Linked DNA regions of Homo sapiens: region 1 is linked to region 2. A link means that fine-mapping ties the variant in region 2 to the expression of a gene that starts in the linked region. Tissue or cell type: lung. Region 2 holds a variant in brackets; the other region holds the start of a gene. All regions are shown on one strand. Distances are between the middles of the regions.

Evidence for each region. PIP is the estimated chance that this variant, and not a neighbour inherited with it, causes the effect.
Region 1: SLC26A1 starts here. The variant in region 2 is fine-mapped to the expression of SLC26A1 in lung (GTEx, PIP 0.95).

What each region holds. Positions count from the first base shown.
Region 1 is chr4:991,793-994,469 of GRCh38, forward strand. SLC26A1 (solute carrier family 26 member 1) reads right to left here and starts at 1,612. Exons shown (of 3, transcript NM_022042.4): 1 at 1,509-1,612. The region is part of intron 2 of IDUA (alpha-L-iduronidase); the gene reads left to right. RefSeq lists enhancers at 949-1,760, 1,761-2,572.
Region 2 is chr4:1,478,403-1,481,079 of GRCh38, forward strand. No RefSeq gene overlaps it. Among named protein-coding and RNA genes, the nearest start is that of NKX1-1, 73 kb to the left of the region's middle. The variant C/A (reference allele first, on the strand shown) is at 1,557.

The DNA of each region.
Region 1 (2,677 bases), 490 kb before region 2:
CCCGGCAGCAACGGGCCCCTTGGGGCGGACCCCTCGCCCACCCAGGGCCGGGGATTGGTGCTGGGCCTTCTCCTGGCAGCGCGGGCCCCAGCCCCCTGCCCGGTATGGATGGACGCTGGGCCCTGCTGGATCCAGAATCCATCGTGAGGTGAGATGGGATTACGACACCAAGCCCATGCCATGGGGTGTGCTGAGGCCAGCAGTGCTGAGGGGCGGCGTGGCGGCACCCTGTCCAGGCTCAGCTCCGGCCTATTGGCTCTGCGGTTCCTGGCTGAAAACCACCCTGTAGCCTCCTGAAGCTCACCTCCCCAACGGGGCAGGAACAGGCTGGGCTGCCACCACGCACATGTGCCTACCGTCAGAATGTCACAGTCACTGGACACAGGTGCAGGCAAGCCTGAGTCCAGCTGCTCCGTGTCCACCTCCCTGGCTCCCCAGGTTGGCAAACGGTCCTGCTGTCCACCCCATGCCCACACCAGAGCCCTCCCTCCCCCATCCAAACCATCGCCTGCTCTCCTGGAGACACCTCCACCCACCCCTCTGTCACCTGCCCTGTGGGTCCTGGGGCTGGCGGAAGTCTCAGGAAGAGGCCTCCTATGTCCCTGCCAAGCTTTGTGGGTACTGGGACCCCAAGTCTGCTGGGGGAGCAGCACTCAGACACTAGCCTAGCCCATCCGCCTGGACTTGGGACAGAATTCTGAGAATATGCCTGGACGGGGGCCCCATCAGGGCCAGCTGGGAGGGGAGGAGGGTGACTGGCGTCTGTCTCCCCTGCCCAGACAGTTCTGGGACGTGAGGCGCCCTTTTTCCCAGGCTGCACCAGCTCACTGTGGAACGGCCATGACACACTGTCCCGAGGCAGCACCGAGAGGGCCCAGCCCGCTGCACACAGTCACCCTGGGCCGGCAGAGCCGGAAGGGCACCTGACCTTTCCCTTGATCTCGGAAAACACCGTGGCGTTAGGGAGGCGGTGCTTAGAGGCCTGACTGGTCCCACGTGAGGCCTCGGGTCTGTCCTGTTTGCAGACTCCAATGTACTTTCACTTTAAACATTCTTCTCAGCGACGTTAGGCAAAGACTTTGCTCCCAGGACACCAGGTGCCCAGGACACCCTGGAGCCTGGGCTGAGCCTGCTGTTTGCACGCTGGCCCAGGGTGTGCGAGCTCCAGTCTCCTGGCGGGTGTGTTGGGGCAGTGAGCCCAGCCTGGTAGGTTGACACATGCAGGCTGGGCACAGCACCCCTGGGGCACAGAGCGGGGGTCCTGGCCCTCAGGCAACATTGCAAGAGTTGTGTCCCCTTCCCTGGAAGACCCCACCACACTGGGTCCCTGGATGCCCTGAAGCCCACCCCAAGCCCCTGGGGTCCAGGTGTGTGGAATGGGGACAGTAGGGCCACCTGCCTTGAGCCTGAGGGTGCCCCTAAGAAACCACGAGTCCAGGGCATTTCTGGCCTCGGCTCCCACGCCCCCCTCTGCTGCAGCTGAGATCTGGGCCCAGGATGGTTCTTACCTGAGGGAGTCCTCACAGGCGCGGAGGGCCCTGGGATGACGAGGGGCTGGCAAGACCACCGAGGACCGCAGGGCCCTCTGGCTCCCGCGAGCAGCGGGGAGAGTGGGGGTGGTGGCGCCAACCTGCAGGCAGTGGTCTGTGCCCTGGACTCTGTAGTTCAATTATTTACCTACAGATTGCTGAGTCATGGGTTTCTCCAGCCATGTTACCTGATCGGCTGATCCGGGAGTTGAACTGTAATCAGGGGCTTGTAGGAGTTAGAGCTGTGTGGGCCTCTGAGGAGCTCCCAGCCTCCCAGGAGCCGCTGCAGCTGTGGCTCTGCGGCCCTGCCGGGGGGGCTTAGGGACCAGCGGGAGGCGGGGGCTCAGGGGCTGAGCACAGGTAAACCTTCAGCTCTGGGGTCTGGGGTCGAGTGCAGCAGCCTTCAAACCCAGGCGGGGCTGAGGGAGGCTTGGTCTCCGTGTCCAGTCGCCGGACACCCTCCTGGTCCTGCAAGGAGCCAGCCTGGTCCAAGCTGGAGCAGGGCAGAGGCTGACAGCCGGCTCAGCCCAAGGCTGCCGGTGCGTGCATATGCGTGTGTGCTCGCGTAAGCCCTGTGTGTGGTGCTCACCGCCCAGGGCGAGGACTGCCGGGGTCAAGGTGCCGTGACTGGCCAGGAGTCCTGGTCTGACTGGACCCAGCACCGACCCACAGCGCCTGGTCACCCTCACGGCTCCTCTGCCCTCCCCTCTACCACAGACCAGGACCGGCAGTGCCTGCCTCATAGGGCTGGGGTGAAGATAAATGATTTTTTTAAGTGAACTAAATTAGGCCCACACGTGAAAATAAGGGTAAGCTGCTTTTTAAAAGGAATTATTAGCCAGGCACGATGGTTCACTCCTGTAATTCCAACACTTTGGGAGGCCTAGACAGGAGGATCGCTTAAGGCCAGCAGTTCAAGACCAGCCTGGTCAACATAGTGAGACGCCCCCCACCTTTTCTTTTTTTTTTTTTGAGGCGGAGTCTTGCTCTGTCACCCAGGCCGGAATGCAGTGGTGTGATCTCGGCTCACTGGAAGCTCTGCCTCCTGGGTTCACGCCATTCTCCTGCCTCAGCCTCCTGAGTAGCTGGGACTACAGGCGCCCGCCACCGCGCCCGGCTAATTTTTTTTTTTTTGAGACGGAGTTTCG
Region 2 (2,677 bases):
AATAACTCATTAGAAGTGTAACAAATAATAGACTTGTAGGCTCAGCTAAAGCCCTTGACAGCTTAGCTCCCCTAGCCTGCCAAGAGCCAAGGGGTTGGGGCAGAGATGGCCCCGTCCCCTCATCAGAAGGCAAGGCCACCTTCAGAGTGGGGAGTTACCAAGTGTGGCAGAATCAGGCTCAGTGAAATGAATTCGGCATCTTTCAGGGAACAGAATCATTGAGCTTACAGACTAAATTTAACAGCCTAATAGAAATATGCAGGTGAAGGTACAATTAATTTTAATTACTAGACTATACATTGTTGGTTGCACAGCCATGAGTAAAATTAAAATGGCAATCACAATTAGAAAATTGCAACCTCATTGTGCAACAAATTAGTCACAAATTAAAAGTGCGGGGCCATTATGCCTTTCCTTATTGCTTTAGCTCCGTTCCTGCTCCAGGCGGCCTTTGTCCCTCAGGCCCATCCTCTGCCTGGGAATTTATCTCAGCTGAGATTACTGGCGCCATCCCAGGAGCATCTGCAGGAGCGGGAAGGGGGACTTCCTGTCACCATAGCCTGGGGCTGATTTCCCTTGGTGCTGGCTGTGTAGGGGCGAGGAGGACGTGTGAATTCACAGGGCAGCCTGGGAACCTAGCCCAGGTAAGGACGGGACCGCTCCCTAGGCCAACACCCCCTGGAAAGGCATGCAGCTGAGCCTCCACCCAAGGCCGACTCTTCACCCTTCCCTTCCAGGGCTCTTGTCCACAGAAGTGCTTGGCTTCCCCATCAGGAGCAGGGCTCTAAGGATGCCCTTTCAGGGGGCACAGCCTTGTCAAGGAGGGAGCCTACCTGGGTGGCTGCCAGCCCCAGCAGAGGAGGAAGGGACAGTTTAAGGCTGCCTTCAATGTCCTCCATGGCTTGGGGATGGATGGGGGTGCCCATTTAGAAAAAGAAGGAGCCACTGGTGAAAGGGAAGCCATCAGCCAATGGACCCCCCTCCTGGCTGCTGGCTCTGCCATCATCCACTTTCCAATCAGTCCCTATTTAGGGCACCTCTTACCCACCTAGGCCTGAGAGAACGGGTGGCATAGGGCCTACGGAGAGTCTTCAGAGACTGGCTCCTAACTTCAGGGCAGATGTGGCCTTGCTCTGCCAGAGAAGCTGCCAGACAAGCTCCAAACTGCCCCCAAACCCAATCCCAACCTCCAGGAGGGGACTGCCCCTGCCTTCAGTGGAATAGAGAAGAGTGGAATCTGCACGGACCAGCACGTGCCCGTCTCCAGCGCCGATGCTGTAATGGGTGGACCCAGATGGTGACCTGGAGGGGGTGCTGCAGCCAGGTAGTGCTCATTCCTGTGAGTATCCAGTGTGGGCAGAGAGCCATGAGGGGGATCCCAGGTAGAGATCACATGGGGGCGTCGTGTTGCCTGGTCTGTTCCAGAGGCCTGTCAGTCCTGCTGCCGTGGGCTGCACCTCTCCATGCCTGTCACTGATGCTTGACACTAGCTCCCACTTCCAGCTGCTCTCCTCTGGCCAAGATTTTGAATCTGTTGGGGTGAGCTGACTCATGGC[C/A]CCTCACGTGGCTTGTTCCATTCTACCCCAGGCTAGACTATGGGTGTCTGCGATGTGATCACAGTCCCAGTTGGCAGAGAGAGGGGGTGAGTTAACAGACTGCAGACAGGAAGAGGGAAGAGTTTATTCTTCCAAGGAGCTACTAGCACGTTATTTGTGCCAGTATGTACCAGGACCCCAGCAGCAATGGGGCAGCCATGGTCCATGCCCTCCCAAAGATGCCAATCCCCAGCCAGAAGGCACTGGGGCTGCCCCTGGGAGCAACACTGTGTGGGAAACACAGAAATGCCCAAGGTAGAGGGCTTCCCTGTGTTGGAAGCTCACAATACAGTGGTCCAGCTGCTGCTGGGTTCTCCACCCAGCTGGTCCATCTAATCAGCAAGTGACAGAAACAGCCTAGTTTTATCATCTTTGTGTTTTCTTCTCCTTCATAGAATCATTTGTTCATTGACTGTTGTCTTAGTCCTGCTATAACAAAATATCACAGACTGGGCAATTTATAAATAACAGAAATTCACTTTCCACAGTTCTGGGGGCTGGGAAGTCCAAGATCAAGCATCAGCAGGTTTGATGTCCGGTGAGGGCTGCTCTCTGCTCACAAAATGGCCCTCTGTTGCTGGGTCCTCACATGGTGGAAGAACAGAATAGAGCAAAACCACTCCCTCAATCCCTCTTATAATATAAGGGCCCTAATCCCATCCATGAGGGCTCCATCCTCCTGATTTAATCCCCTCATAAAGACCCTACCTCTTAATACAATTGCATTGGTGACTAAGTTTCAACACAAGAATTTTGCAGTCACATTCAGAACATAGCACCTGTCTTTGCTCCTAGCCCATACCCTCCATGGGTAGGGGGGGTCATTCAGTCTTGATTCCTACTGGACCCAGCCACCCAGGCTACACACACACCAGGTAGCCACAAGGAAACCCACTGGGGGTGGCAAAGCCCCAGGGCTGGCCACAGGGTGGGCTTGATGGATGAGGGCAGGAAGCTGTCACCAGGGCCAGGGAAAGGGGAGGCTACCCTGTAGGAGCTGGCCTTTGGCAAAAGTTTCCTGCCACCCAGTGTAGAAGGGGGTGAGAGAGAAACACGCACAATACTGAATGTGGTTGTTGTGG